Linked DNA regions of Homo sapiens. The protein of the gene in region 2 interacts with the protein of the main gene of each other region in a biochemical or structural test. Each region holds a gene or a part of one and is shown on either strand. Other genes may lie near its edges. The genes, in order: UBE2H, TRIM69 and EYA4.

The links.
Region 1: the proteins of TRIM69 (region 2) and UBE2H form a complex in vitro, tested with the Homo sapiens proteins (one study listed by BioGRID).
Region 3: of the proteins of TRIM69 (region 2) and EYA4, one has a biochemical effect on the other in vitro, tested with the Homo sapiens proteins (one study listed by BioGRID).

What each region holds. Positions count from the first base shown.
Region 1 is NC_000007.14:129,850,083-129,861,452, forward strand, and holds part of UBE2H (ubiquitin-conjugating enzyme E2 H), read right to left. Parts: intron 8,860-11,370; coding exon 8,820-8,859; intron 7,482-8,819; coding exon 7,429-7,481; intron 1-7,428. UniProt on the Homo sapiens protein: Accepts ubiquitin from the E1 complex and catalyzes its covalent attachment to other proteins. E2 ubiquitin conjugating enzyme that transfers ubiquitin to MAEA, a core component of the CTLH E3 ubiquitin-protein ligase complex.
Region 2 is NC_000015.10:44,739,528-44,750,897, forward strand, and holds part of TRIM69 (E3 ubiquitin-protein ligase TRIM69), read left to right. Parts: intron 1-11,370.
Region 3 is NC_000006.12:133,507,778-133,519,147, reverse strand, and holds part of EYA4 (protein phosphatase EYA4), read right to left. Parts: intron 8,876-11,370; exon of another isoform or gene 8,422-8,875; intron 6,428-8,421; coding exon 6,369-6,427; intron 6,271-6,368; coding exon 6,110-6,270; intron 3,828-6,109; coding exon 3,713-3,827; intron 1-3,712. UniProt on the Homo sapiens protein: Tyrosine phosphatase that specifically dephosphorylates 'Tyr-142' of histone H2AX (H2AXY142ph). 'Tyr-142' phosphorylation of histone H2AX plays a central role in DNA repair and acts as a mark that distinguishes between apoptotic and repair responses to genotoxic stress.

The DNA.
Region 1 (11,370 bases), on a different chromosome or scaffold from region 2:
GTGGCTGGGTGCAGTGGCCCATGACTGTAATCCTAGCACTTTGGGAGGCCCAGGTGGGCAGATCACTTGAGCCCAGGGGTTCGAGACCAGCCTGGACAACATAGTGACACCCCCATCTCTAGTATAAATAAAAAATTAGCCTGATGTGGTGGTGCATGCCTGTAGTCTCTGCTATTTGAGAGGCTGAGACAGGAGGATCACTTGAGCCCAGAAGGTTGAGGCTGCAGTGAGCCACGCTGCACTCCAGCCTGGGTGACAGGGCAAGACCTTGTCTCAAAAAAAAAGAAAAAAATAACAATTAGTAGGAATTCAAACACTCAAAGAATGTTTGCAACATACATGATAAATACATTTAAATCTCAGTAGTAGCATTTTGGTTTTTAAGTATTCAAAGCTAGAAACAGGTGTTCCTGTGCTGTGTGGGAAAGGGCAATATGAAAGATGCAGGGCGCTGGCCTGGCGTGGTGGCACACGCCTGTAATCCCAGTACTTTGGGAGGCCGAGGCAGGTGGATCATGAGGTCAGGAGTTCAAGACCAGCATGGCCAAGATGGTGAAATGCTATCTCTACTAAAACCACAAAATTAGCCAGGTGCGGTGGCAGGCGCCTGTAATCCCAGCTACTTGGGAGGCTGAGGCAGGAGAACTGCTTGAACCCAGGTGGCAGAGGTTACAGTGAGCCGAGATTGCGCCACTGCACTCCAGCCTGGGCGACAGAGTAAGACTCTGTCTCAAAAAAGAAAGAGAGAGAGAGAGAAAGAGAGAGAGAGGGAAGGGGGATGGGGGGAGGGACAGAGAGAGAGAAAGGAGAGAGAGAGAAAGAAAGAAAGAAGAGAAAAGAGAAGAGAAAAGATAGATGGACAGATGGATGCAGGGTGCTGAAACTGGGAAAACCAGCCACATTCTGCTCAGGGCCAGGCTACCAGGCCACCAAACTGAGGTGTGTAGTTACAGGACATAGACTGTTTTTAAAGCATTCCAAACCCGCTTAAAAGGTAATTTCCCATTCATTGCCTAATTGTAGCCCCTTTCCCCCCAACATATTTAAACTTCAGAGAGTTGCAGAAGAAAATAAGTGCTACTGCATAGATCACAATGAAGAAAACAAGCTCTTGTTCATCAAAAACACTGCTCTTGTTGCATTGTCAATCTCAAAACAATTCTCGTCTATTTGGGTGTTTTTTAGAGGTAATTCATCCTCGTTCAAACCTTATAACCCTGCTTACCTTAAGAGCTTGTAAGCTAAAACATGGTAATAGGATTTGTTATTAACCTTCCAGAAATGAGGGCAGTTAATGTGTAATTAGCTAGCTGGATAGTCTTGCTGTCATACTAAAACTCGCTATTCAAGCTTGTAATTACTAGACAATAATTTAGTTGTTAATATCAGAAAAGAATAACAAGAGGTAACTTCCTGCAATTACAAGCCAAGTGTCCATACGCTGGGAAGACTTTATAACTCAGTAATCGTAAGTGAATGAAGATAAAACAAATCAAGGTTACATTTACATATAATCAAGAATGAAACAAGCCCTAAAATCAGAGCCCCTACGAAAGTAGAGCATAGCTGTGGCTGTCTTTCAGAGCCATACCCTGGCTGGCTCATGTCCCACGATCCAAAAAGCCTGGACCACCCCATGGTTTTAAAGCTGACCACCAGTGAGTGTGGTATTTTTAATGAATGTCCACTAAGTTGTTCAAAGCCAGCAAGACTCCATTTTTATGTATATAACTAGTTAGACTCCTGAGCCACATACACCTCATCTGAAGATTTCCAAGCAGACAGATAAAGAAGGTTGGTTACGGAGCTAGCTAAGCACTGTTGAAGCGCAAATCCACAACTGAGCACATTTCTTTATTATGTACAACAGGTGACATTATCCCAATAGTACTGGACAGAATTGCTCTACTTGGCCTCTATCTACAAATAATGACATCCAGCTGTTCCAAAGGCAGGATGACGTTTGTGATTCAACATGGACAGATCAATACTGAAGTTCTCAAGCTGTTCAAATAGTAGTTGGCCAATTAATCATCCATGAAGACACATACATGTATTTCTTATCTGTGTAGTTACACTAAAATGTTTAGGAAACAGCATGCACTAATCCAGCATAAAGCATTATTTTAAGATATACCTTCTGCCAAAATCTGAATTATTTGGGAAGATTCACAGACTATCTAACTGAAAAGGGGATGGGATAAGTGTTAAATTTGTATTTTAAATTTCTAAATGCCTGGTAAAATAAATTTTAGGTGCCTGTAGTCCCAGCTACTCGGGAGGCTGAGGCAGGAGAATGGCGTGAACCCGGGAGGCGGAGCTCGCAGTGAACTGAGATCGTGCCACTGCACTCCAGCCTGGGCGACAGAGCGAGACTCCGTCTCAAAAAAAAAAAAAAATTTGTATCTCTTGCCTAATCTCAAAGTCCTTGAAGTATTCCTTCTGTTGTAGTCAATTTTATTTGCCTGTTACTAACTCCCCAGATAACTCTAGGGGAAGACTTTTCCCAAATGTTGATTTTTCTCTCCAGCAAAATAAGAGTAGAAGTATCTAGTCCACTGGCTAGCAACCCTAAGAGTGAAAATGTAAACTGCCCAATTTCATAAGAAAATTGTCTTCCACCTCACTTCTCCACAACTTTTTTTTTTGTTTGTTTTTTTGAGATGGAGTTTTGCTCTTATTGCCCAGGCTGGAGTGCAATGGTGCAATCTGGGCTCACTGCAACCTCCGCCTCCCGGGTTCAAGCAATTCTCCTGCCTCAGCTGTCCGAGTAGCTGGAATTACAGGTATGCGCCACCACGCCTGGCTAATTTTGTATTTTTAATAAAGATGGGGTTTCTCCATGTTGGTTATGGCTGGTCTCGAACTCCCGACCTAAGGTGATCCGCCTGCCTTGTCCTCCCAAAGTGCTGGGATTACAGGCATGAGCCACCGTGCCCAGCCTACAACTTAATCCATCATATAAATAATTTACGAAGGCAGTCAAAGAATGAGTAAAATGAAAGCTGGAGAGAGAAACACATTTGCAGGGATCAAGCATGCCTGGTCCAGAAGGGTGGGATGAGAGAGAGATTAAAGCTGTATCGCAGTGAAGGCACCTGGGCCCCCAGGAGTGCAGGGTGATAAGCCAACTACAGATAAAATATATTTTGGAGAAAAAAAGGAAAACTGGAAAATAGAAGAGTGCTTAAAAAGCTACCTGTGGCTTAATGAACTCTCCTATCAGTCCTTAAAATTAATTTGTTTTGAAATGGAAATCCAGATCCCCTTGGCTACATTTTATGTTTCTCAGAGCTTCTGTCACTGCTGTCTGGAAGAGCAGGAAGGGATGCAAAAAAAAAGATGCTATCATGCAGGAAGCCAAAATCACTTTGGTCATCTGCTACTTTCTGTTTAATGTCATAACAATAACAATAGATAACTTCATACTTGATAACTTCATACTGATGGCAAGCATCTTACAAAATTAATCCGATTCCTCACTATAATTAGCTCTCTTGTAAGGTTAAATAATACAAAATTAAAAATTACTGGGTGAGTAAACCACAATTATACCAATTTTGAACTCTGAATAAACAAATTGCACATACACTTGGCAAAGAGAAAACAGGATAAGAACAGAAGCAATGAGTCAACTGGCTTACCAGAAATCAATGGCGGGGAAGGGTGTGAGGGGACAGAGGACTAAATTTACTGCTAACATGAATGTTGTTTAATATCAGGCTATGATTAACATACATCTGAAATTTCAACTGTGAATTGTTGTTACGCTACAAATATGTATACCCACAGAACAGTACATGTCCTGGGGCAAGGTAAATGGCAGGAAATTTCACAATCCACTCCCTGCTCCCTCATCGAATCTACAGCAGAGGAAAGTGTTGAAACAAGTTTTAGGTGCCAGGCTTAGCCTTTTGCTTTTCAGTTGAATATTTATGTTGACACGCCAACTTTCTCCTATTAGTTATTTAGTGTTAGTTTTTTTTTTTTTTTTTTTTTTGGCGGGGCAGGGGTTGGCGGGGGCAGTCCTTTGAACTAAGATTCTCTCAGGAACCACTGCAGGAAATGAAGTGATTCAGAACTCACCAATTATGAACTAACCTTCAATGCCAGAGGCTTTAACAGTTTCTAATAAAAATTCAGTTCAGATCTCAAGTTCAGATAAGTCTGAAAAAACACTTCAAGGTCATCTGAACGAACATATTCTACCAGTACTTTATATAATTGTATTTACCTGTTCCTAAAACTTTCCGTGAAAGAAATGTTGAATTTTCTTCAGAAATAGTTTTGAGCAAAATGTCAAAACAATTCTCCCATGCTCAGTGTACTTTTGACTATACTCTGAAAATATTTCTTCTTGTTTTCCTGCACTTACCTGTTAGTGTGCTCACACTCCTGTATTATGGAACATGTTCAGTAACTCATACACATGTAACACAGAAGTCTGCTTTCAGTTCACTTGGACCAACGTGGTTTAACTCTTGCTGCTTATTAAATGCTTTGCAAGCTAATGTAAGTACACTAACATTTTATAAATGTGATGAAAACTTACTCATGTTGGCCACTTTACAAAGTAGTCTATCAGTCCTCAAATAGTTAAACATATTATCCAGCAATTTCACTCCTAGGTATATACCCAAGAGAAATGCAAACATGTCTACACAAATACTTGTGCACAAATATTTATAACACTCATAATAGCCAAAAGACAGCAATAACCCAAATGTCTATTATCTGACAAATAATGTGGTTTATCTACACAATGAAATATTATTCAGCCATAAGAACTTCCGATACATGCAACACGGATCAACCTTGAAAACATTATGCAAAGTGAAAAAAAAAACAGTCACAAAAGACCACATATTATATAATTACGTTTCTAAGAAGTGTCCAGAAAAGACAAATCCACAGAAACAAAAAGCAGATTCGTGGTTGCCTAGGGCGAATAGTTAAAGGGTACACATTTATTTTTGAGGTGATGAAAATGTTCTAAAATTGACTGTGGTGATGGCTGCATATAACTGAATGTATTAAAAACTACTGAATTACACACTTTAAATGGGTGATTTGCATGTCTGTGAATTATAATTCAGTGAAACTGTTATTTTTTTAAAAAACCTGTTCTGAGACATGAAGTACTTGACAGTCAGCAAACATCTTTCACAAAGCTTTTCTGGTCAATGGTAAAAGCTTTAGCAAAACTAAACATCAATTTACTTCATTGTAATTGGAACCAGATTGCAGTATTTTGATATGTACATTTTTAAGATGTGAATGTAGTTTAAGAAAACACATCATTACATCAGATATTCCAGGCAGCCTGCCATGAGACATTTTTACCAAAAAAACCATCTTAAAAGGAATCCATTTAATCAAGCTCGGAGTGTATGTTCTTTCTTGTTGCCTCAACTATATGCCATCATCTCCCCTAAAACTCTCTTGTTAAACAGTTCTGGACATGATTAATTCACTCATTAAGACAACAAATAGTCGAACCCTTATTGTGCACCAGGCACTGTTACAGTCACGTGTGCGTGTGCGTGTGTATAGAGAGAGAGAGACGAGAACAAGACAAAGTCCTCACTCATGGTGCTTACAATCCAAGGGGATAAGATAAATAATATACAAATACCAGTTTTAGAAGCTTATTGAAAACGGGGTACTAGCCAGGCATGGTAGTATGCACCTATAGTCCCAGCTACTGGGGAGGCTGAGATGGGAGGACTGTTCGAGCCTAGGAGCTCAAGGCTGCAGTGAGCTATTATCGCACCACTGCATTCCAGCCTGGGCAACAGAGTGCAACTCTGTTTCTATGTATTAAAAAATAATTTTAAAATTAAAAAATATATATACAACTGGGTGCTGTGCTATGGAGGGGTGTGATTTCAGATGGAGTAGCTGGGAAAGGAAACTGCTCTGAGGAAGTAATATGTGAGATGAGTGAAGAAGGTGCTAACCACACAAAGATCAGGGGGGAATATCCCAGGTAGAGAAAATAATTTTTGAACGGCACAATCAGGTGGAGGCAGGGATTAACTGTGTTCTGCTGGTGACCAACCTTTCTCTGTGATTCTCATTTACCAATCTAGTTCAAGGATATCTGGCAAAAGTAACTTGCAGATTGTGGCTGGACTAAGAAGTCTTACCTACCTCAGACCACTAAAAGGTCGTACAAGTTCAACAAGAAGCAGCCATCCCTGGTTAAGCTCAGCCTCAACTGAGCTTTCCCTTCTTTTCTTGTGCCTCTCAGCAATGGTTACCTGTACCATTCATTCTTTCAACCCATACTGGTGAAGGGCACTGTGATAAGAGTCCTGGGCCTTACAGATGAATCAGACACACACCCGATAGCCCTTAAGATAGGAAATAATCTAGTAGCACAAAAAAATAGGCATAAACAACAAATACACAGTAGAAAGTAAAAGTGGACCATAAAAAAGGAGCTATAAAATGTAATGGTATCCAGAGATTACTTCCAGCTGGAGAATCAGCGGAAGTATACGGGGTAGGAGCACTGGAGTAGGTAGACTCTATGAAGCCTGAGATTTGGACATGTGGAGGGAAAAACAGATTTATTTGTTGTATCCCTAATTAACTTCAAATACACAACTGACCCTTGAACAACATGGGTCCACACACAGTTTGAACTGCATGGGTCCATTCACATGTGGTTTTCAATAAATACAGCTAGCCCTCCATGTCAGTGGGTTTCACAGGGATGACTGTGGGACTTGAGTAAGCATGAATTTTGGTATCTGCAGGTGGTCTGGGAACTGATCCCCTGCAGATACCAAGAGATGACTGTATTTTAACATATTTTCAGCTCCCCAACCAGGTGATAAGGAGGAAAGGCCTGATGCTCTTTATAACTCTCTGGGATATTCAGCATAGCATTTTGCAGAGCTGGGCAATTCATTTGTTGATTCCCTGTAAGAGATGGGGTGTCAATTTCAGCACTGAAGGTAAGGCTAAATTACTCTTCCTTCATAAGGAGGTTTTGGTCTTTGAAAAGATGATCCCCTAAAACCTCTTACTATATCATTGCTCTCTCATTTCAGAGGGACATTCCTAAGTAGTTTTAGTTTTTTCCAAAACCAAAATATGTATATATTATGTGCTAATACATACATATAAAATGTTTGCACATGTATTCATGTGTGTGCGCATGTACTCATGTGTGTGCACATGTATCACTATACCTTAAGTTTGGAATCTCAAAAAATCATTTTAAACTTCCACAGCTAAACTGATATATTTGTACTTAAGAGAAAACATTTTTTCCACTGATCAAACTTTCCCAGTCGGTCCCTCAAAAATCCCTTCCCATTACCAACAAAACATCTTAAACCAGAAAAGAAAAGCCAAACAACATTTTTTTAGGCAATGTCTCAACATCTCCAAAAAATATTCCATGGCCAAACTCACCATAGAGAGCTGTCCAAGTTTGATTAATTACATCTAGACACACAGTTCCTGACCTGAAACAGATGGAAAGAATGGCATGTTTTTAAAAATTAGAAAGTTAGTTGCATGTATCTGGCAACTAATTTTTACTTATCAAGAGAAATACTTCTAATAGATCTGTGAAAAAAAGAATCCCAATTGGGGAAAAGTATGATGAGGAACAGAATAGTACCAGGTCTTGAAGTGTCACCTTACAGACTGAAAGGGGAAAATAGTAACTATGCAATGGAGAAACCAGACAACACCTGAACCAGGTGCTGAGAACACAAGGGGCAGACAGACCTTGTGTGTCTCTGAATGTGATACCCCAAGAAGGACACCATCTTACTTTGTAGTTTTCTGGCCTTAAGTGTGTTCATGCCCTGAATCTAATGATCAGGAAACATCAGACAAACACAAATTGAGGAACAATCTATAAAATAACTGGTCTATGTTATTTTAAAAAGTGAATTTTATAAAAGATAAAGGCAGGCTGAGGAACTAATCCTGATTAAAGCAGTTTAAAGAAACATGACAACTAAATGTAATGTGTGATTCTAGACTGGATCCTTTATTGAAAGAAAAAAGTGCTAAAAAGTAAGTTACTGGAATATGGCAGTAGATTAAATAAGTATTGCATTAACGTTAAATTCCTGAATCTGACAACTATATACTGTGGATAGATAAGAGAATATCCTTGTTAGGATAACTGATACAATAAAATATTAATATTAAAGGACTAAGGGGCATGATGTATGTATATATACAACCTACTCACACAGAGTGCAGAAAAACCTGTTAGGTATGTTTGTGAGAGACAGTAAAACTTAGTGCCATGACAAATTAAAATTGCATCCCAAACAATAATATATTCTAAACAGCACTAGAAGTATAAAACAGGATATGCTGGAATATTTTAAAGTATCATTAATAAAATATTAGAAGGAAAGAAGGGGATAAATAAGATTCATTAACTGAAATGAAACTATAGTCATTTTGCCTTACTATCTATCAAGAATTGAGAAAATATTATAAGATCTGAAAATAGTCTATCTGTAGGCTGAAAACAGATCTCTGAACTGTGTCTACAAAAAGAGAAGTGAGATGTGGAATATTACTACTGTTTGCTGGGTAACAAGAAAAATGAAGGACCCAGTCACGACAATGGAAAAAAATAAGTGGTACAACAGCAGAATGTGAACTAAGTGATTGAGAACCTCATATCCTTTGGATTCTATCATTTACATGACCATTCATACAGTCCTACCTCCTGATAAGGTCCAAAAAGATAACCGAGGCTTTTTATAACACAGAGAAACACTAATCATGAGCAGTTGCTGCTAAAATTGAAACATTTTAAAATAGTTACTTACGCTTCATCAATGTTGGGATGGAAAATTTTATTCATGAATCCTGTAAAAAGAGATGTTAATTAGCAGCAAAAAGTATCCAGAGAACAATAAAAGTATTTCAGTACTGGAAACAATTTCAGTATTGGGAAAAGGTGATAATACTTATAAATCACTACTTTCAACCTTAGATCTTTCATTACTGATAAACATTATATTCTCCTGATAGCTCCAATTATTTGGAATACATCAGCATTCTATTAACAAATGAGCAAACTGGGAGAAATGCAGCTTCTTATACAAAACAATCATTAAAGCAACTGTTTTCTGAGCTATGAAGGTACTGCTCAAAGATAAATTATACTACTAAATGGTTCATAGCCAGTGTCATGATAAAAGTTAAGAAACTTCACTCTCCCAGAAGTTTTGTTGTTCAAGCTCTAAATCTGGAGGTTCTGCATTTCAACTTCTCCTTCTGACGCTCACTTACTGGTATCACTTGGCTGCACTGTGCACGGAACATGAATGAAACTGTTGAAATGCTAAAGGAATACCACTTCAAACCACAAAGGATTTCCTAAAAGCAGTGACCAAAATATTTCCTTTAACATTAGTCTACTCATTCAGGGAAACCCAGTTTTGATTAAAATTGGGGCAACCAAGCAAGGAGTTAAAAAAAATACTCTAAGTTGGCTATATCTGTTGGAGGTTTAAGTTTTTAAAATTTTTCCTAGCAAACCAAGTACACACTTTAATAGCTATATGGCCATTTGAACTTCAAGGAGAAATTAATAAAACCAGTTATTCAGTCAGTCAGTATATATGCAAATGGCAATATTCTAAAGCAGAGATCCATTGTCAAAGGTGTCATTTTGTCATCCTTATCACTTCATTTCCTTTTAGGACTCATTCTGTTCCACACTTTCAATATCTGAAGTTCCTTATTAAGGTGAGTATCACCACCACTATCTCCGACCCCCATCCTCCATCACCCCCATCCCCACAGTCTCTCTCTCTCATATTCATTCAGAACATATTTGGTCAGCACCTACACCGCAGGCATTGTGCTTGGATAGGGTATAAAAATAAGACAGTTCACTATTCTTGAGGAGGTCACTGTGGCAGTGGGACAAGAGACACCAATAAATACCTGCAATCTGAATAAAGTATTGATACAGTAGGCGGAGTAAAATGGGAAGAGTCAGGAAAGATGCAGAGAAATGGCACTGGAGGAGGAGCCTCAAGTGAGGCGCTACAGAGATTGTCTCCAAAAACCTGAGAAACTTCCCCTGAAGTAGAAAACAGGGGATAAGAATACCAAGTCCAAGTAGTCCAGTCTTAGACCACTCTAGTCACTCACACTTTTAACTTTTGTTTTTAAATGCTCTGTGTTGAAACAGCATAATGTTCTATCTACTACAATCAAGAGGGCCTATGTGATGTTTAAGTTACTCTGATGAAAAAAAATCTTTGTGTCCAATATTAATTTTTCATTAAGGAAATTAAAGATGTTTCAAAGTCTAGATTTAAGAAGCATGTGGTTTATGAAGACATTTTAATAATGGGAAATGTTCATGTCTTGGTATTAAGAGGAGAAAAATTAGGGTAAAAAACATTCTACATTAACTTTAGAAAAATACTAATACACATGTCCCAGATGCCCCATGAGAGTATTTGTTGCAATATTATTTATAAAAGCCAACAGCCAAATTCAACCCTGTCAATGGGATAGGGTTGGATAAAGGGGAGTACATCCATCTACCTGAGTCCTATACAGCCAAGGGTAATGAAGTAGATCCATGTGTATCAACTTGTATACATCTAAAGCTGAGTTTTGTTTTTTTTTTTTAAGTTGCAGGATGTTATATTTACAGGCTGAGGTTATTTAAATAAACTAAAACAAACAACTACCAATTCTCCATGGTAACAAGTATAGGAAAACTGTACTGAACCAACATATACCAAATTTGCAAAAGTAATTGTTTCAGTTAGGGCACAGGGCCAGGGTCATGATAGGAAAAGGGAACAGAAGAGGAAACAGTGGTTAAAAATGACTTTATCTGGCCAGGCACGGTGGCTCATGCATGTAATCCCAGCACTTTGGGAGGCCAAGGTGGGTGGATCACCTGAGGTCAGGAGTTCAAGACCAGCCTGGCCAACATGGTGAAACCCTGTCTCTAGTAAAAAGAAATAAAAAATTAGCTGAGTGTGGTGGCGTGTGCCTGTAGTCCCAGCTACTCGGGAGACCGAGGTAGAGAATCACTTGAACCCAGGAGGCGGAGCTTGCAGTGAGCCAAGATCACGCCACTGCACTCCAGCCTGGGTGACGGAGTGAGACTGTCTTTAAAAAAAAAAAAAGACTTTAACACTATTAATATATTCCTTTTAAAAAGGGACAATGTGCTTCTATATTATTTGCTCTGTTTAAAACATATGCACATAAATAAGAAACTGAAAGTAAGTACAAATGTTAACAGTGTAGAATTCTTAGTGGTGGTAGTATTTTCTCCGCTGCACTTTTCAAATCTCATCACCACCTCACCACACCTGAACCAGAACTAGGATCACAGCAATG
Region 2 (11,370 bases):
ATACTGTGCTTTTCCGACGGGCTTAAAGAACGGTGCACCAGGAGATTATATCCTGCACCTGGCTCGGAGGGCCCTACGCCCATGGAGTCTCGCTGATTGCTAGCACAGCAGTCTGAGATCAAACTGCAAGGCGGCAGCGAGGCTGTGGGAGGGGCGCCCACCATTGCCCAGGCTTGCTTAGGTAAACAAAGCAGCCGGGAAGCTCGAACTGGGTGGAGCCCACCACAGCTCAAGGAGGCCTGCCTGCCTCTGTAGGCTCCACCTCTGGGGGCAGGGCACAGACAAACAAAAAGACATCAGTAACCTCTGCAGACTTAAATGTCCCTGTCTGACAGCTTTGAAGAGAGCAGTGGTTCTCCCAGCACGCAGCTGGAGATCTGAGAATGGGCAGACTGCCTCCTCAAGTGGGTCCCTGACCCCTGACCCCCTAGCAGCCTAACTGGGAGGCACCCCCAAGTAGGGGCAGACTGACACCTCACATGGCCGGGTACTCCTCTGAGACAAAACTTCCAGAGGAATGATCGACAGCAGCATTCGCGGTTCACGAAAATCCACTGTTCTGCAGCCACCGCTGCTGATACCCAGGCAAACAGGGTCTGGAGTGGACCTCTAGCAAACTCCAATAGACCTGCAGCTGAGGGTCCTGTCTGTTAGAAGGAAAACTAACAAACAGAAAGGACATCCATACCAAAAACCCATCTGTACATCACCATCGTCAAAGACCAAAAGTAGATAAAACCGCAAAGATGGGGAAAAAACAGAGCAGGAAAACTGGAAACTCTAAAAAGCAGAGCGCCTCTCTTCCTCCAAAGGAACGCAGTTCCTCACCAGCAACAAAACAAAGCTGGATGGAGAATGACTTTGACAAGTTGAGAGAAGAAGGCTTCAGATGATCCAACTACTCCGAGCTACAGGAGGAAATTCAAACCAAAGGCAAAGAAGTTAAAAACTTTGAAAAGAATTTAGATGAATGTATAACTAGAATAACCAATACAGAGAAGTGCTTAAAGGAGCTGATGGAGCTTGCTGTATTCAGGAAACCCATCTCACATGCAGAGACACACATAGGCTCAAAATGAAAGGATGGAGGAAGATCTACCAAGCCAATGGAAAACAAAAAAAGGCAGGGGTTGCAATCCTAGTCTCTGATAAAACAGACTTTAAACCAACAAAGATCAAAAGAGACAAAGAAGGCCATTACATAATGGTAAAGGGATCAATTCAACAAGAAGAGCTAACTATCCTAAATATATATGCACCCAATACAGGAGCACCCAGATTCATAAAGCAAGTCCTGAGTGACCTACAAAGAGACTTAGACTCCCACACAATAATAATGGGAGATTTTAACACCCCACTGCCAACATTAGGCAGATCAACGAGACAGAAAGTTAACAAGGATACCCAGGAATTGAACTCAGCTCTGCACCAAGCGGACCTAATAGACATCTACAGAACTCTCCACCCTAAATCAACAGAATATACATTTTTTTCAGCACCACACCACACCTATTCCAAAATTGACCACATAGTTGGAAGTAAAGCTCTCCTCAGCAAATGTAAAAGAACAGAAATTATAACAAACTGTCTCTCAGACCACAGTGCAATCAAACTAGAACTCAGGATTAAGAAACTCACTCAAAACCGCTCAACTACATGGAAACTGAACAACCTGCTCCTGAATGACTACTGGGTACCTAACAAAATGAAGGCAGAAATAAAGATGTTCTTTGAAACCAATGAGAACAAAGACACAACATACCAGAATCTCTGGGACACATTCAAAGCAGTGTGTAGAGGGAAATTTATAGCACTAAATGCCCACAAGAGAAAGCAGGAAAGATCCGAAATTGACACCCTAACATCACAATTAAAAGAACTAGAAAAGCAAGAGCAAACACATTCAAAAGCTAGCAGAAGGCAAGAAATAACTAAAATCAGAGCAGAACTGAAGGAAAAAGAGACACAATAAACCCTTCAAAAAGTTAATGAATCCAGGAGCTGGTTTTTTGAAAGGATCAACAAAATTGATAGACTGCTAGCAAGACTAATAAAGAAGAAAAGAGAGAAGAATCAAATAGAAGCAATAAAGAATGATAAAGGGGATATCACCACTGATCCCACAGAAATACAAACTACCATCAGAGAATACTACAAACACCTCTATGCAAATAAACTAGAAAATCTAGAAGAAATGGATAAATTCTTCGACACATACACCCTCCCAAGACTAAACCAGGAAGAAGTTGAATCTCTGAATAGACCAATAACAGGCTCCGAAATTGTGGCAATAATCAATAGCTTACCAACCAAAAAGAGTCCAGGACCAGATGGATTCACAGCCGAATTCTACCAGAGGTACAAGGAGGAACTGGTACCATTCCTTCTGAAGCTATTCCAATCAACAGAAAAAGAGGGAATCCTCCCTAACTCATTTTATGAGGCCAGCATTATCCTTATACCAAAGCCGGGCAGAGACACAACCAAAAGAGAGAATTTTAGACCAATATCCTTGATGAACATTGATGCAAAAATCCTCAATAAAATACTGGCAAACTGAATCCAGCAGCACATCAAAAAGCTTATCCACCATGATCAAGTGGGCTTCATCCCTGGGATGCAAGGCTGGTTCAATATACGCAAATCAATAAATGTAATCCAGCATATAAACAGAACCAAAGACAAAAACCACATGATTATCTCAATAGATGCAGAAAAGGCCTTTGACAAAATTCAACAACGCTTCATGCTAAAAACTCTCAATAAATTAGGTATTGATGGGATGTATCTCAAAATAATAAGAGCTATCTATGACAAACCCACAGCCAATATCATACTGAATGGGCAAAAACTGGAAGCATTCCCTTTGAAAACTGGCACAAGACAGGGATGCCCTCTCTCACCACTCCTATTCAACATAGTGTTGAAAGTTCTGGCTAGGGCAATTAGGCAGGAGAAGGAAATAAAGGGTATTCAATTAGGAAAAGAGGAAGTCAAATTGTCCCTGTTTGCAGATGACATGATTGTATATCTAGAAAACCCCATTGTCTCAGCCTAAAATCTCCTTAAGCTGATAAGCAACTTCAGCAAAGTCTCAGGACACAAAATCAATGTACAAAAATCACAAGCATTCTTATACACCAATAACAAACAGAGAGCCAAATCATGAGTGAACTCCCATTCACAATTGCTTCAAAGAGAATAAAATACCTAGGAATCCAACTTACAAGGGACGTGAATGACCTCTTCAAGGAGAACTACAAACCACTGCTCAATGAAATAAAAGAGGACACAAACAAATGGAAGAACATTCCACGCTCATGGATAGGAAGAATCAGTATCGTGAAAATGGCCATACTGCCCAAGGTAATTTATAGATTCAATGCCATCCCCATCAAGCTACCAATGACTTTCTTCACAGAATTGGAAAAAACTACTTTAAAGTTCATATGGAACCAAAAAAGAGCCCGCATCGCCAAGTCAATCCTAAGCCAAAAGAACAAAGCTAGAGGCATCATGCTACCTGACTTCAAACTATACTACAAGGCTACAGTAACCAAAACAGCATGGTACTGGTACCAAAACAGAGATAGAGATCAATGGAACAGAACAGAGCCCTCAGAAATAATGCCGCATATCTACAACTATCTAACCTTTGGAAACCTGAGAAAAACAAGCAATGGGGAAAGGATTCCCTATTTCATAAATGGTGCTGGGAAAACTGGCTAGCCATATGTAGAAAGCTGGAACTGGATCCCTTCCCTACACCTTATACAAAAATTAATTCAAGACTGATTAAAGACTTAAACATTAGACCTAAAACCATAAAAACCCTAGAAGAAAACCTAGGCATTACCATTCAGGACATAGGCATGGGCAAGGACTTCATGTCTAAAACACCAAAAGCAAGGGCAACAAAAGCCAAAATTGACAAATGCGATCTAATTAAACTAAAGAGCTTCTGCACAGCAAAAGAAACTACCATCAGAGTGAACAGGCAATCTACAAAATGGGAGAAAATTTTCGCAACCTACTCATCTGACAAAGGGCTAATATCCAGAATCTACAATGAACTCAAACAAATTTACAAGAAAAAAACAACCCCATCAAAAAGTGGGCAAAGGACATGAACAGACACTTCTCAGAAGACATTTATGCAGCCAAAATCACATGAAAAAATTCTCACCATCACTGGCCATCAGAGAAATGCAAATCAAAACCACAATGAGATACCATCTCACACCAGTTAGAATGGCATCATTGAAAAGTCAGGAAACAACAGGTGCTACAGAGGATGTGGATAAATAGGAACACTTTTACACTGTTGGTGGGACTGTAAACTAGTTCAACCATTGTGGAAGTCAGTGTGGTGATTCCTCAGGGATCTAGAACTAGAAATACCATTTGACCCAGCAATCCCATTACAGGGTATATACCCAAAGGACTATAAATCATGCTGCTATAAAGACACATGCACATGTATGTTTATTGTGGCACTATTCACAATAACAAAGACTTGGAACCAACCCAAATGTCCAACAATGATAGACTGGATTACGAAAATGTGGCACATATACACCATGGAATACTATGCAGCCATAAAAAATGATGAGTTCATGTCCTTTTTAGGGACATGGATGAAATTGGAAATCATCATTCTCAGTAAACTATTGCAAGGACAAAAAACCAAACACTGCATGTTCTCACTCATAGGTGGGAATTGAACACTGAGAACACATGGACACAGGAAGGGGAACATCACACTCTGGGGACTGTTGTGGGGTGGGGGGAGGGGGGAGGGATAGCATTAGGAGATATACCTAATGCTAAATGATGAGTTAATGGGTGCAGCACACCAACATGGCACATGTATACATATGTAACTAACCTGCACATTGTGCACATGTACCCTAAAACTTAAAGTATAATAATAATAAAAAAAATGGTGGAGTAGAGAAGTCCCAAAGTCCATCCCTCCACAAAAACTGGCAAAAATTTTGAAGATCGAGTTTTTTAAAACTTGAAACTAATCAAAAGCTTACAGCAACCAGGGAAATATTTAATAATAATTAAATAAAACCTTGAATCTCTGTAAAATAACTTTTTAACACTTTAACTTACTCAGGTTTTCCTCATTTCCCATCTTGGTGGTGGTTTTAAAGACAGCTGACATTCCAACTACAGGTACATAGTACAAGTGGGAGCAGCATGGACCTTATTCCCAAAGAACTGTGGCTTTGACCTGTCTGGTGCTTCCATGAAGTATTACATAAAAGGCTTGCCATTAGTTTGTTTAACTCAGAACTTTTTCACAGATGAGATGGCTACCCTGGAGGTATAGTTTGGAAACATTTAAAAGCAAATGTTTTTATTGCTGCCACCTGGGGAAAGGCATAATAGTTGGGGCAAACAATAGAGTAACCAAAAAGCTGAGAAAGAAAGGCTGGGGAAAGAGTTATTTTGGGGAATACCCTTTGAAAAGTACCCACATATTCCTGGTAATCTAGAAGGCCAACTGCATGCCCAGGACTGAGTGCATACTAAAAAAAAAAAAAAAACCTGAGAAAGACCCCAAGTTTTCTTCTCGGAGTGACTTTTAGGATCTGTGTAAGCAGGAACTGAGGACTAAGGAAGTTGTAAACTGTGTGTTGAAGGCATGCTCAACATATACGAAGCCCATTTACAAAGACTGGGAGGTTTTTGTTGTTGTTGTTGTTTGATTTGGGTTGATTCTAGGCATTTAAGGAAATCTCTGTTGAACTATTAGATGACTACTAAGTTCATGGGACAGAATTCAGTAGCTACATGTGACGAAGAATACAGACTTTACAAAATTTGTTTAGAAAAGTCACTAACTAAACAAAACAACTACAACAAGAAGTAACAAAAAACCCCAGAGAAGGTGGAAGATTCTGATTTCCAGAGATTTCACATTATACTTGTCAAAGTATCGGATATTCAACAAGTATAAATAAATAAGAACATATGGCCCATGGACAGGAGAAAAGGAAATTAATAGAAACTATTCCTGAGGAAGCTCAGACATTGGACTCACTAGACAAAGATTTTATATCAATTATTTTAAATATTCTCAAATAGCTAAAGGAAACAATTTGCAAATAAGGAAACCATGAGACTGATGTCTCACCAAATAGTGAATACCAGCAAAGATGTAGAAGTTATAAAAAGGAACCAAAGAGAAATTATGGTGTTGAAAAGCATAATAACTGAAATGAGAAATTCGCAAGAAGTGTTCAAATCAGATTTGAGCAGGCAAAAGAAAGAATTCATGAAACTGAAAATAGGTCAATTGAGATTATGCTGAAGATCAGGGAAAAAAAAGAATGAATAAAAATGAGCAGAGCCTCAGAAACCTGTGGGACTGTTATGCATAGTTGGAGTCCCAGAAGAGAGGAGAGAAGGGGACAGAAAGAATGCTTAAGGAAATAATGGTTTAAAACTTTTGAAATTTGACAAAAGGCATAAAGCTATACATCAAAGAAGCTCAACAAACTCTATGTAAGTTAACAGAGAGCCACACCAAGTTATAATTAAACTATTAAAAGCCAAAAATAATCTTAAAAGTAGCAAGAGTGAAGTGACTTATGTACAAGAGAGCCTCAATAAGTTAACAGCTAATTTTTCATCAGAAATCATGGAAGCCAGAGAGCAATGGGATGACATCTTCAAAGTAATTGAATAATCCACAAAGAATTTTGTATCTGGCCAAACTATCTTTCCAATATGAAGAAGAATTTAAGACATTCTCAGACAGACAAAAACTGAGCTTATCTCTAGTAGATCTTACCTACAAAAAATGACAAAGGGACTTCTTCAAGCTGAAATGAAGGGACATTAGACAATAACTTGAACCCAGACAAAGACATAAAAAAAGCACTCATCAAAGAACTACCTATTTTTGGTTTGTAACTCTTCTTTTTTTTCTAAAGTTTTAAAAGATAATAGCATAAACCAATAATTGTATATAAAAAAAGAAATCAATCTTAGTTTAAAACTCAAGTGTGCAAAGAATAGCACATAGTATTTTCTATAACACTAAATATTGGCTTTGCATTCCCATTCCTGTGGGCTGGAGGTAAATTTGTTATCTTTCAGGAAAGGCATCCACACTGATTAATGCTGAAAGTCCATTACCCAGTCTAGTCAAATTCATATATTGAGGACATTTGAAATATTCTGCCCACTCCCAGCACGTGCACGTGCACACACACACACACACACACACACACATCTTTCTTTAAATATATAGAAACGTTAAAGTGTCAATAACAATTTAAGTGTTAGTTTTTAAATGGTGGATTAAAAACTAATTTTCTCCCTTCTCTTAGAAACTCATCCTTCTTTAAGTCAAAAACCACAAGGAGAATGAAAAATAGACAAATAATTTGCAATGAAACTAGAGACATCAAATAGCTTGGACTACAATCTATGAGGAAGGACTGCCAAATATAGTGAAAGTCAAGCAGGAATGTGAGAAAGGATGCCTAGGGAAGCAGACCTTACATGAAGGGAGGTGGTACTTTTCCAAAGAAAGTACCCCATCCTGTTGGCCACAACCCACAAGCCCTGGTACAGAACAAAGAGAACAGGCAAGCAGGCTTAAGCTGGAGTAACCCATTTGTTATACAGATTTGAGATATGGGAAAGGTGAAGTTGAACAAGGACAAATATGCCATATTTTCAGAAAGCAGTCTGTTGCTGAGGTAGAATGGAGGAGAGAGACTCTGCATTGCAAACAACCCTGCAGTGTTGATCATGGGGAAAAAAGAACCCATGCAAACATTGTTTTATAAAGAAAATAGCCTCAAATATAACCCTGCCTCCATCCTCATACAAGTCTCTTGCAAATAGCTGATTCAGGAAGAACTCACCTCATTCAAAGGTGTTTAAAGAAATACAAAATAAATAGCATCTATAAAACAACAAAATGGGAGAAAATGTCCAAAGCAAAGCACAGAAAGTTATGGAGTTAGAAGATATGAAAAAGAAATTAATAGAAATAAAGACTGGAGTGAGAAGCGTCAACATCTGTCTGATAGGAATTTCAGAAAAAGAGGCTACAGAGAATGGTTGAAAGGCAACATTCAAAGAGAAGATGGCCGTATTAGGTCCAGACAGGCAAGACCCAGGTTTGGGGAGATCAGGCATCAGCAATAGGGAACACAGGCTATGTGAGAAACTATGGAGCAAAGGGCTACAGACTCAATCAAAAGCATTTTCACAACAAAAGTGAGAATGTAGACATGGAATGAGGGCAATATAAATAGTTATTAATGAGAATGGAATTTGATCATGAGGCAAAGAATGTTTAGCCATGTTCCCCTGGCTAGAATAAATCTGAATATAAGGGAAACTAAGCCCATAAGGAGAGGTAAATGTAAACTTCTAACGAGGAATGGGCAGGGTTAGGAATGAGGAACAGAGCAGTTCTGGATACTCCAATTCTCAAGTGGATATATAGCAGATGGAAATTGCTCTGGCCTTCAGGATAGAGTTCTTTGAATTCCCTGATTTCACCAGTGACTTGAGTGTCAGAGCAAGTTCGTACTCCTCTGAGCTCCAGTTTTCCTCTCAAGAACAGAAGAGTAACCTCTGGACAAACTCTCAGGGATTTTGCCTCAGAATACATCTTCTGTCTATATTTAAGTTTTTTATCCTTCAGAGGAAGATGATATGCAAGTTGAAAAGTAGAAGCTAGGGACTTCTAGTTGCACTTTGTCCTGGTCCCATAAATGTAGTGGAGGTCCAGATGTGAGCAGCTCTTGGGCAGAGCCTCTATGTTATTCATTTCTATGACCCAGGAAGTATGGGCATAGAAACAAAGCTGCCATCACTGAATGTTTATTTACACCATTAGACCTTTAGGCACTGAGATTGAAGCCACTTCTGGTGGCCACTTCTGGTGGCTATTCATCAAATAGTAGCCCACCCTGGAAGGCATTATATAGCATTCTGCAAAGCAGGATATTATTCAGTATAAAAATTCTGGCTCTGGGCTGGGCGTGGTGGCTCATGCCTGTAATCTCAGCACTTTGGGAGGCCAAGGTGGGTGGATCACTTGAGGTCAGGAGTTCGAGACCAGCCTGGCCAACATGGTGAAACTCTGTCTCCACTAAAAATACAAAAAATTAGCCAGGCATGGTGACGCATGCCTGTAATCCCAGCTACTCGGGAGTCTGAGACAGAAGACTCGCTTGAACCTGGGAGGCAGAGGTTGCAGTGAGCCAAGATCATGCCATTACACTCCAGCCTGGGCGACAGAGTGAGACTTTGTCTCAAAAAAAAAAAAAAAAAAAAAAAAATTCTGGCTCCGGAGTCAAATGGCTTCAGTTTAGTATTATTAATTTTTTGAGATAGGGTCTTACTTTGTCGCCCAGGCTAGAGTGCAGTGGCATGATCTAGGCTCACTGCAGCCTTAACAGTCCAGGTTCAAGCGATTCTCCAGCCTCAGCCTTCCGAGTAGCCGGGATTACAGGCACGTGACACCACACCCAGTTTTTGTTTTTGTTTTTGTTTTTTCCGGTAGAGACAGGGTTTCACCATGTTGCTCACGCTGGTCTCAAATTCCTGGGCTCAAGCGATCAAGCTTTGCCTTGGCCTCCCAAAGTGCTGGGATTACAGGCGTGAGCCATCATGCTTGGCCTACAGCTTCCATTTTTTCAAAAATTGAGGTAAAAGTCATACAACATAAAATTAATCTTTTAAGATGTACAATTCAGTGGCATTTAGTGCGTTCACAATGGTGTATAATAATCACCTCTATCTAGTTTCAAAACATTTTCGTCCTCCCAAAAGGAAACCCCATGACCAGTCACTTCCAGTGATATGAGCAGTCACTCCCCATATCTCCTTCTCTCCAGCCCTGGCAACCAATGATCTGCTGTCTCTATAGACTTACCTATTCTGTATATTTGATATAAATGGAATCGTGTAATATGTGACCTTTTGTGTCTGGGTTTTTTCACTTAGCATAATGTTTTTGAGGTTCATCCATGTTGTAGCATGTATGAATACTTTATTCCCTTTTCTGACTGAATAATCTTCCATTGTATGAATATGGCACACTTTTCCATTCATTAGTTAATGTGCATTTGGATTGCTTCCACCTGTGCCTATTGTGAATAGTGCTGCTATTAACATTTAGGTACAAGTTTTTGTTTGACTATCTGTTTTCAGTTCTTTTGGGTATATTCCTAGAAGTGGAATTGGTAGGTCTGTCTTATGGTAGTTTTTTGTTTAATTTTTTGAGGAACTGCCAAACTGATTTCCACAGTGGTTGCACCAATTTATATTCTCAATTAACAATGTACAAGAGTCCATTTCTCTGTATCACCAATACTTATTGTTTTCCATTAAAAAATTACGGCAATACAAGTGAGTGTGAAGTGGTATTTCACTGTGGCTTCGATTTGAATTTTCCTAATGACTAGTAATACTAAGTATCTTTCCATGTGCTTGTTGGTCATTTGTTTATCTTCTTTGCATAATTGTCTATTCAAGTCCTTTGTCCATTTTAAAAATTGGGTTGTTTATTTTTTGCTATTGAGTTGTAAGAGTTCTTTATTCTGGATAATAGACCTTATCTGGTATAGGATTTGCAAATATTTTCTTCCATTCTGTGAGTTGTCTTTTCACTCTTTTGCAAAAAGAAAACTAAAAATAGTTTGTTTTTTGTGATGTCTTTATCTGTCTTTAGGACCAAGATAAGCTATCCTCACAGAATGAATTAGGAAGTGTTCCCTCTTGTTTTTTTGGAAGAGTTTGAGAAGGATTGATATTAATTCTTTAAATAGTGGGCAGGATTACCAGTGAAACCGTCTGGTCCTGGGCTTTTCTTTGTTGGGAGGATTTTGATTACTGATCTACTCTCTTTACTTTTGTAGGTCTGTTCAGATTTTCTGTTTCTTCTTGAGTCAGTTTTGGTAGTTGGTGTGCTTCTGGAAATTTTCCATCTCATCTGGGTTGTTCATTTGTTGGCATACAATTGTTCATAGTTTCTTATAATCCTTTTTTATTTCTGTAAGATCTGTACTAATTTACCCACTTTCATTTCTGATTTTAGTAATTTAAATCTTCTCTCTTTTTTTCTTCATCAGTCTACTTAATGGTTTCTAAATTTTGTGGATTTTCCCTCCAAAGAATCGCATTTTTATTTCATTACTTTTTCTTTTTTTTTTTTTTTTTTTTTTTTTTTGAGACGGAGTCTCACTCTGTTACCCAGGCTGGAGTGCAGTGGCGCGATCTTGGCTCACTGCAAGCTCTGCCTCCTGGGTTAACTCCATTCTCCTGCCTCAGCCTCCCGAGTAGCTGGGACTACAGGCGCCTGCCACCACGCCTGGCTGATTTTTT
Region 3 (11,370 bases), on a different chromosome or scaffold from region 2:
TGATTTTAGTTATTTCTTGCCTTCTGCTAGCTTTTGAATGTGTTTGCTCTTGCTTTTCTAGTTCTTTTAATTGCGATGTTAGGGTGTCAATTTTGGATCTTTCCTGCTTTCTCTTGTGGGCATTTAGTGCTATAAATTTCCCTCTACACACTGCTTTGAATGCGTCCCAGAGATTCTGGTATGTTGTGTCTTTGTTCTCGTTGGTTTCAAAGAACATCTTTATTTCTGCCTTCATTTCGTTATGTACCCAGTAGTCATTCAGGAGCAGGTTGTTCAGTTTCCATGTAGTTGAGCGGTTTCGAGTGAGATTCTTAATCCTGAGTTCTAGTTTGATTGCACTGTGGTCTGAGAGATAGTCTGTTATAATTTCTGTTCTTTTACATTTGCTGAGGAGAGCTTTACTTCCAAGTATGTGGTCAATTTTGGAATAGGTGTGGTGTGGGATGCACCAGAATTTTTTAGAGTTAAATTGAGTTGCTTAAGTGGCTTTTGATTTCTAAATATTACAAGTAATGCTACCAAAATATATTCTTACATCTTTCGTTATTCTGAGACTATATTCACAGAATAATTAGGGTCAGAGGGTAAGTTAATTTTGCTAGGGGTTCTACTACATAATTCAACAAAGCATCTGTTTTTCTGACATTCCAGGCATTTTGTGAAAACTATTGGGTTGGTGCAAAAGCAATTTTGTTTTTTGCCATTAAAAGTAATGGCAAAACTGCAATTGTATCAATATGGTAATATATGTGGATAACTCAGCAAATTCCATAGCATGTAACTACTCAATGTATGTTGATTTCTTTTTCTCCTCCCTTCCTTGTTATATCTTTATTTATTTCTGGAATATCACATATTCCTTTAGTTGCCTTAAAGCCATCTGTTTAATAATTAATCTGTATATATTATATAGTATATATAATCTAATAATGTAATCATCTTTTTTAACTTATATAGAAGACATCTTTTAGAAATAATGAAAGCTATCAACCTCCTTCTCAGAGAAATGCACACTCCACTACATTTTACACATCATGTCAGTGGCTCAGGGGTCCTCGTGCTCCAGCGTCCCTGACATTTGGTCTCTCTTGTCACCAATTACAGAGGACATGAGATAGCAAGTCCCATTTCAACTGGTTTAGACATTTCTTCCTTATATAGAGCCAGAATCTCCCTTGCAGGATTCCTACTCATTGGTCCCAGTTCTTTCCTTTCCAGACACAGGGAGAAATCTAATTGATTTTCAGCCTAACGTCTGAAACAGGTGAAATTGGTAATCTTGGTTCTGCACATGACTCTTCTGACTAAGCTCTCTGGCTCCTCCTTCCATCTGTTTCTTTTAGGTGGTTCCCACAGTCCAAACCCGTGACTGCCACACTTGACACAGGCTGCTTCAACCCTGCCACAGCCCCCACTGGAATATGGTCCCTAGAACTGACAAACTAAGCTGCCATGGCTTCCCCAGTCAGACACAGGAAGCTACTTCCCCTCCGCTCTCCATTTGGACTTTCTGCTATCCATGCAGCTCTGCCTGTGCCACGAGTCAGAAGCTGTGCAGGATGTGACAACTATTCATTTACTTTCATGTTCTTAATATTAACTTTTTTTTTTTTTGCCCTGTCAGGCTTTTCTGCATTCTGATTCAATTAGTCCAAATAAATCTTTCTCTGAATGCTGTGTTCCCCATACATTTATTAAGCATGCTTTTTTCTTCTTTTTTTAAAACTAACAATTTGTCATCTTATTCATTGATCTTTTCTTTTCCAACTTTTATTTTAAGTTCAGGGGTACAAGGGCAGGTTGGTTACATAGGTTAACTTGTGTCATGGGGGGTTGTTGTACAGATTATTTCATCATCCAGGTATTAAGCCTAATACCCATTTTTCTTTTTGCTGATCCTCTCCCTCCTTCTATTCTCCACCCTCTGGAAGGCCCCAGTGTGTGTTGTTCCCCTCTATGTGTCCACATGTTCTCATCATTTAGCTCTCACTTGTAAGTGAGAACATGCGGCATTTGGTGGGAGTGTAAATTAGTTCAGCCATTGTGGAAGGCAGTGTGGCGAATCCTCAAAGATCTAAAGACAAAACTACTATTTAACCCAGCAATCCCAGTACTGGGTATATACCCAAAGGCATATAAATCATTTTATAATAAAGACACATGCACACACATGTTCACTGCAGCACTATTCACAATAGCAAAGACATGGAGTCAACCTAACTGTGCATCAATGATAGACTGGATAAAGAAAATGTGGTACATGTACACCATGGAATACTATGCAGCCATAAAGAAGAATGAGATCATGTCCTTTGCCAGGACATGGATGGAGCTGGAGGCCATTATCCTTAACAAACTAACACAGGAACAAAAAAGCAAATACTGCACGTTCTCATTAATCTTTTCTTTACTTTTTTTTTTTTTTGAGACAGAGTCTTGCTCTGTCTCCAGGCTGGAGTACAGTAGCATGATCTCAGCTCAGTGTAACCTCCGCCTCCCAGGTTCAAGCAACTCTCCTGCCTCAGCCTCCCGAGTAGCTGGGACTACAGGTGTGCACCACCACGACCAGCTAATTTTGTTTTTTTTTTTTTGTATTTTTAGTAGAGATGGGGTTTCACCATGTTGGCTAGGGTGGTCTCAATCTCCTGACCTCGTGATCCACCTGCCTCGGCCTCCCAAAGTGCTGGGATTATAGGCATGAGCCACTGCGCCTGACCCATTAATCTTTTCTTAATGGAAATGCTGACAGATTCTTTTTTTTTGACTTTTATTTTAGGTGCAGGGATACATGTGCATGTTTGCTATATAGGTCACGGGGTTTTGCTATACAGATTATTTTATCACTCAGGTACTAAGTCTAGTACCTAACAGTTACTCTTTCTGATTCTCTCCCTCCTCCTACCCTTCACCCTCAAGTAGGCCCCAGTGTCTGTTGTTTCCCTATATGTGTCCATGAGTTCTCATCATTTAGCTCCCACTTATTAAGCATGCTTTTATTTATTCACCTAACTCAGATATAAAATAATGGAAGCGGACAGTACAGAGATTCAACTCTACCTTACCAGCTATCACGTTCCAGACTTACTTACATCACTTTATGAATTAGCATATTTGGCACCTGGTTGTACAACTGGTTACAAATCAATTTAATTCTGCTCTGTATACTGACACAAGTCAGAATTTCACTGTTTAGTTCAAACAACAAAATGGTTAGAATTTTTTCAAGAGCTTTCTCCTGCTTTTCTGATGTGCTTACATTATGTGTATTATCCATTATGGCCTAACACCTAAAACATGCCTTTTTGTATCAACAGTACTGTTTCATATTTGCCATCACCCCCTTGTACTTTGCCACCAACTGAGTTCTCTTTCTTTTTTCATTAGAAGTCATGTAACCATTCTGTGGGGATTATCAGTTGCTATGAGAAGAGATGGGTGGTGAGATAGGGTCTCCTGTTTATTCTGAGAAGCAGCAACCTTCTCTCATCCCAACACACACACACACACACACACACACACACACACTCACACACACACTCTCTCTCTCTCTCTCTCATGCACATGCACTGAAATTGAAAAAATCACTGAACTCAGAATTGTTAGGTCCCTTAAAGTCTAAAACAGTCTAGGAATTAAAACATTTTTTCTATGTTGTACAATTAGAACTAAATCTTCAATACGATACACATAGAAAGGTAACAATTCCACTTACCTAGTGCTAATAATTGATAAAGACTTAAGTGCATTTGTTAGCCAGGAATCTGTCAGACCTTCAATCTCTGCCCTTAACTGTAGCCAGGCATCCCTCTTGGCAGGGCCAAGGAGTCCTGCAACACCAAAAAACCAAGGCAGAGTCGAGAGATGAATATTGTCTCAGAATATCTAGTTTAGATTCCCTTCTGTCTGGAATAGATCATTTTTATTTCAGTATATATCAGAAATGCAGAGAGATACAGATTTATGTCCATATTGATCCTTCGTTTCTGAATTGAATATCCATTGATTCCGTCAATGAATATTTACTGAACTTCTAGGTCTCAGGTAGTGCCACTGAAAAGTGGCCCCAGTCTCTGCCCTCACTGATCCTACAATCTAGCGCAGTGGATCTCAATCATCTAAAGAGCTTTGAACATGCCCCTGCCTGGATCTTATTCCAAGGGACTGTGATATTTGAGGTCTGGAGGAATAGTTGGGCTTCACCAACCTAGGGACACAAATCCCAAATGTTTTGACTGTCTGAAAACGTTTAGCTTCTTAATAATCACAATCATTTCCACTTTCAAACAGTAACAATGGCATCATCATATGTAGCTGTTAAAATGTTTCTAATACTACTGCTAATGCTACTATAAATACTTTGCTATGTAAAAAATTAATAATTTTGTTTAAAATCATGAAGTGTAGGACAGTTACAATCATGAATTATAATATTGATGTTAAAAGAAAAAAGATAGATGTGCTAATTTTTTATTTTAAAAGATCCAGTTCTTGCTTTTATGATAAAACAAGATCATGTAAATCCATTAAAAAGGAAGGTTTCTTATTGAAATTGTGTTTTAGAATATCGGGAGCACATACACACTTGTATGGTTTTTTCAATCAAAATTTACAGTTTCTAGCAAGTCTCATTTGTCCTCATTATAATAGAGAGATGCTCACGTATGACAGAAAGTAGACTCGTGGTTGTTTAAAGTTTCTAAGATACAAGATTACTTCTTAGTCTTCTTGTTAACTTAAAATAATTTTATTAATACACCGCAAGAAGGAAATGATGACATCTGAATGATAAAAATTAACTCAGATTTCCCAAGGGGATATTTATTTTAAAGTTAAAACATATTATCTACCATTGATTTTAACTAGAAAATCTACTTATTTGATTTTACAAAAGCATCATGTACAGAGCACTAGAGCAAATCAGGAAATCAGAGATTCTCCCCAGCACCCCATGCAAGTCGGCAGCTTGCAGGGGTCAATTTCTTTTTGGAAATGAATGTCTTCCATATCTAAGCTCCCTTTTGTTGCTAACATTATTATCCTCTTTGGCTCTACATTTTTTGTTCTCTTACAGTTATTATGTATCTGTTGAGCATCTCTTATGTGTTTCACTGCTAGGCACTGGGGATACAAGGTGACCAGACACATAGCCCCACCCTCATGATGTATATGGATATATGTGATTATATACTATATATGAACATTTTATTTACTATATTGTATTCTATGATATATATGTGAATATATGTATGTATAGTATGCACATGTATATTTAGTATATTGGATTCTAGTTTATGTTCCTCAATTACTCTTCCTTTTTAGAAAAAAAGAGAAGCACATAAAGAAACAAAATCCTGGGAGATTAATCTGATGTGACCTAATAGCAAATTTTAGGAATCTTGTTTACCTAAAATTGATTCTAATAAGATATCACCAAGGTTTATTTTATATATAGAAGCACATCCAGGATCACAGTTTTGATAGCAAAGGTTTTGATATCACCTGTAAAATATATGAAGGGGTATAAAATGGTTTTGATATTACCTACAGATTATTTGAACTTTTAAAAACTATGATAATCATAGTTGACACTATGCATGAGAATGATACACTGACATAAAACATGATTTTTTTAAAAGATAAAATAAACCTGTTGAAAGTCTTTGAAATGACATTAATAACTGTTTATATTTATTTTTGATGGGATTCCAGAAAGATAATGCTTGCTAACCACCGTCCTTCAATGATTGAGGCTCTCTACTTGAGAAAGGACTTCTTTCTGTTGCCTCGGTTAGTTCCTCTGTCTGATTTTCACTGATAATGCTCCAAGCACCAGCTGATAAAGGGTCAACTAAATGCCCTGGTATAAATCTTGACCAAACATCTGGGCACAAGGTTACACAAAGAATTCCCAATTTATGTGACGGTGGTGCATGTTTTATTTTGTAGTTAAATTTTTTCCCACCAATTCTAAGAAACTTCTGGCTCAATGTGGTTTAATATGAGCTTTTGCTTGTTTCTTTTACAGCAGAATCATCTTTAACATGAAACTACAGATTGAATTCTACCTATACCCAGAGTACCTTTGTTAGATTGAAAAAGCCACACATACCTCCAACGTTGTTCTTGTAGGTGTTATATAATTCTTTTACTCTTCTGTAACGAAAAGCCAACTTCCTCATCCAGTCAACCCCTCCTCTTACACCTGTTGGCAAACAAAGGTTTGCACTACTTGCAGCTGCATGGAAGCCATCAGTTGCAAAACTGTAGGTACTGTAACACCCAAAATACATTAAAAAGAAATAATTACATGTGCAAAACTCCACAGCCGAATTTCTGTAGGAAACAGCATACTGAAAGGCATAGCTTACCTTAAGTCCTGCCCATTATCATCAGAGGAAACATCATCTATATGAACTTGATCACACTCCTGTTAAAAACATTGGAAAAGTTATTTGTTTTCTAAATGATGCTTGTTACCATGCTTGAAGGTTTTCCCATCTTCTCATCTGATCAGACTACCACCAGAAGATGGCAGCATGTGCCCGTCCATCTCATTGCCTCACTCTTGTTTTCTTCTGTTGGGAAATGGCACCATTTCTACCCCACAAAATTTAAATCCAGAAGAGTTCCATAGAAAGGAGGGGTGAGAAAATATACGGCATGAGAGTTTCTTTAGAGCAATTTAAAAATTTTAATCTTAAAATTATTGATAAGAAATTCTCTTGAATCTTCATAAGCATTTGAGTTCCCTTCCAGGCCATTTCTGTTGTGCATACTTAAGCATGGCTAATCTGAAGATACACAAAACTTAGTCTGAACACCTCAGATGGTTACTATTATTTATCATTTGTTGAGTGGCAACAGAGGGGCTTGCCTTCAGATTATGGTGTCCTGTGGAATTTCCATGACTTCCTGCTGGACCAGAACCATGAAAGAACCATGCTGGTGTTATTTCAAGGTCCTAGTCTTTTGACACAGAAAAAGGGTAATGATCATAGATATTGACATTTTCTTTTTGTCAAGTTTTTAAATTTTCAAATCAAAAAGACTACTTTTAAGTAAAAGGGAAATAATGACGATTTATCATCTCAAATGTGCTACAAAATTCCAAGCAAAATAAACTTTATGTAAGTATACCCACACAATTGACCTGATTTTTTTTTTTTTTATATGGAATCTCACTTAGTCGCCCAGGTTGGAGTGCAGTGGCGCGATCTCGGCTCACTGCAAGCTCTGCCTCCTGGGTTCACGCCATTCTCCTGCCTCAGCCTCCCGAGTAGCTGGGACTACAGGCGCCCGCCACCACGCCTGGCTAATTTTTTTGTGTTTTTTGTATTTTTACTAGAGATGATGTTTTACTGTGTTAGCCAGGATGGTCTCGATCTCCTGACCTTGTGATCCGCCTGTTTCGGCCTCCCAAAGTGCTGGGATTACAGGTGTGAGCCACCACGCCCGGCCACAGTTGACCTGATTGTAAGTTACTGTGTGCTCAGAACAAATGGTAACTTATGTGGATAAGGATTTGATCCTTCTTTGCTGTTCTGAGTCTTAGTCCATCTTCAAATAATCTGCAAAGTTCCAGCGCAATATTACAAGATCTAAAGGTGAAATTTGGTGAGGGCATTTAAAATGCCTAGTTCTCAGAATAATAAATATATAATAAATAAAAATAAATTATTTATAATAAATAACTACATCATATTAACCTCAGAGTAAGTATGGTTTAGCATCTTGGGCCTCCTTAGTCCCCCTCAAAGTATTTTACTCATACTTACAGCTTCTGACTATATACATAGTGCTTAGCATTCAAAATTAATTTTTAAAAAAAATCATTAAATTTGAAAATACACCATACTAAACAAAGGTTTTTTGAAAGCTACTATTTATATTCATTATTGGGCTTGAAAGTATCTGGCAGTCAAATATTTCATACCTAGTCTCCAGATTTCCACACAGAAAGTGTTTAATCCGGTTCCAGTTTAAAGGTATAGTTGACTCAGGCTTCCTTTAATATACAAAACTCAGTGACTAGCCCAATCAGTACCTTCTGAGTATGTAACTTGAAAATCCAGGTAAGTTAAAAGTTCATATAATTTACAGAAATTACAGGGTTAGTAAGTTTTGAATAAATCTCCACCTACACGTATGGGTCCCCAAATTTAATCTGACTGGAAGTGCCCTGGAGTGCGGCATTTGGTTCACCAGGTTACATCCCCACTTACGGCACAATCTAGCATAGAATAATCACTCCACAATTCTTTCTTAAATAAATGGGAGAAGTCTAGACAAATGCTAATTCTTTACAGGATTACCACAATCATTTAAATTTTCTAACACAAGGTTACGATGATATAAAATAAAAGCATTCTAAATGGTGAGGAGAGTAAGAAGATATTTATGTCAAGAGTGGAAGGAAGGGAGAGAGAAGAGTGCAGAGACTGCCCAAGGAATGGCCTGGCCGGACAGGTATTTAGAAAATGTCTTCCCCTCTTTGACCAAGTATTGGCTGAAAGGAGTGCAGTCCAAACTGTAACCAAAGGAGGCATTATGCTTCCTGAAAAACATCCAGTAAAGGCATTGCAAGCAATGATAGTAACTGCTGGACTGGGCTTTAAGGAAAAGAGTGGAGAGATTTTACCCATTAGCATAAGGGTTGGAAATAAAGTTTTTCTCCCAGAATATGGAGGCACCAAAGTAGTTCTAAATGATGAGATTATTTCTTATTTAGAGATGGTGACATACTTGGAAAGTCCGTAGACTGAAATAAATCACTATTGAAATGGTGTCACATGAAGTTGCCCATTCCATTGAAGCTCTGAAATCTTTCCACATGTAAATAACTTCTGTGTTTCTCTTTTATAATAAATTAATGACATTCAAAAAAGTGGAGGAATCCTTGTAAATTTCCCTGGTAATCAGAAGTTATTTCTCTATTTAATATCCTCTCATTGTAATTTTTAGAGAAATTCCTCTGACATTAAATATTAACTCGCATGATTAATTTGTACATAGGTTGCCCAAAAACTTATCTTTTACTCCTGAGGACAACAGTATATCACACTTATTGGACCATAAGCTCCATAATTGAGGTTATATTTGAGGTTTTTCCAAATTTAACTTTTCTTTAAATTTATGCCTAGTTAACTATGCCTGTTGACTCTGGACGGTTGCCTGAGGATTACGGTCCAGTGAAAGAAACCTGAACTTCCATTATTTACATTTTTAGAAAAAGCTAAATAATTGTCCTTCAATTATTTTTCACTCTGAGAAACTTTGTAAGAATCATTTTGACCAAAAAGTGAAATACTAAAAACACTGTAATGTTTTGGCTTTAACAAATTTTAATAAAACTCAAACATTTGAAAATATTCTAGAACTAACTTTAAATACTTTAATTTTGTCTCACAAAGTGACCAAAAAGTGGTCACTGATATTTATCAGTTATAATTCACAGCAGTCTTTTCTCACCTTTGCCATCTCAAACTTCCTGAGACTTCTTTTCTGGAGGTTATTCTAACCGAAATAGCACTTTATTTAAACACACAGGATTCTCTTCTGTTGGGGGAGGGTAGTTTGGGCATCTGCCTTCTCTGCAGTTGGGCAGGATGCAGTGAAGTGTCTATTAGGAGGATTTAAATTTGTATCTTTTAAGGAATTATGTGAGGAACAGCTGCTACTATATATGTTGCAGTATCTACTGAAAGAATGGAGTGTCAAATTAGATGGTTCGGTTTTTTTTTTTTTTTTAAGAAAAGCACCCTGAGAGCTTAAATATTCAACATCAACAATGACAACATAATAAGCTAATGTTAGAGTTACTCTCTTGAGGAATTCTTTTTGTCAACAAGAGTAGAAATCATTTAATTCCAGTTATGGAGCCCAAGACAATTTTTGGCTGTAAGAGGTTTATTGAAATAAAAAGTTGTGTGAAAGTAAAACTGCCTTTCAAAGTCAGATGCAGAAGGATAGGGCGCTATGTATGTAACTGTACTGAATGCTTTTGAAAGCTACTGTTTTGATTCTATTGGTTTTAGTGCTTGTTTACTCAAGTCAGTAAAAATCATTTATGTTTCCTTGGGCACTTTATCTGGATGTGCAAGCATTTGTGTGGCACGCATATACAGTGAGAGTTCAATTTATCTGCAGAAACTCAATTATTTTATTGATTAAGTACAGTATTGTTGAATAGCTAAGTTCTAGGGTTTGAGTCAAATGAAATTCTTATCACATTCTAAAACACAACTAAAAAGCTATATACTCAGAGAAGAGAAAGTCAATACCAGTATTTTCTCATGAACTACTTCTACCAAAGATCCTGCCAGGTATTTTTGAAATACATATAACATAGTACCTGAACTAAAATAAATGTCTTTAAGTGCCATACATGACTACAACATGTTTTTGATATACCAATATTCATTTCAAACTTGCTAGTTAGTTACAAATTCATTATATGCTACTTTCACCTTCTCACTGCAGTGTTCTTTTAAAAGTTGGGTAGCAAATTTATTCCATCTGGCTTCTAATGTGCCACTACAAAAGCTAAAAGTTCATTTATTCCACTTATTTCCAGTAAAAAATAATTAACCAAATGAAATAAGCACTTTTACTTGGATACTACCACATAAAATTTCTTTTTTCTTTTTATACCTTTGAAAAGACTAATAATATTAAGATCCTCTTTACAATGCAACTCATCCATACTGATCAACAGAAAAACTAACCCCAAAAGTTATCGCTGTATGTAAAAAATTCAAGTTGTGGAAAGGTTAAGGTGTTTGTTATTACCAGATATATATATATAAAATCATTCTGTATTCATAAGTAGCAGGATCAATTTAAATCAGGTTTTAGAGAGGTGATTATTATTTGTTATCTAAAACTGAAAGCTTGCCTAGTAATATGAGCTTTCATACTGTCCACTGTAGAAAAAAAAGAATGCCGCTTTAAACAGACAGTAATTGTATTATTCAGTAAAAACATGACTCACCATAGAGAAAAACAACAACAACAACAGCAAAATGCTATTACACAGATTTCAGCACACACATTTATGGAATGTACTGAACCACTCATTTTTACTCTCATGTCTCAAATATAACTCAAACTGGATTTAAGACCTTGTCATTTAAAAAAAAAAACTTTCTAACTGGCGTGTTGGTGGGAGTGTAAATTAGTTCAACCATTGTGGAAGACAGTGTGGCAACTCCTCAAGCATCTAGAACTAGAAATACCATTTGACCCAGCAATTCCACTACTGGGTATATACCCAAAGGATTATTAATCATTCTACTATAAAGACACATGCACATGTATTTTTACTGCAGCAATGTTCAATAGCAAAGACTTGGAACCAACCCAAATGCCCAT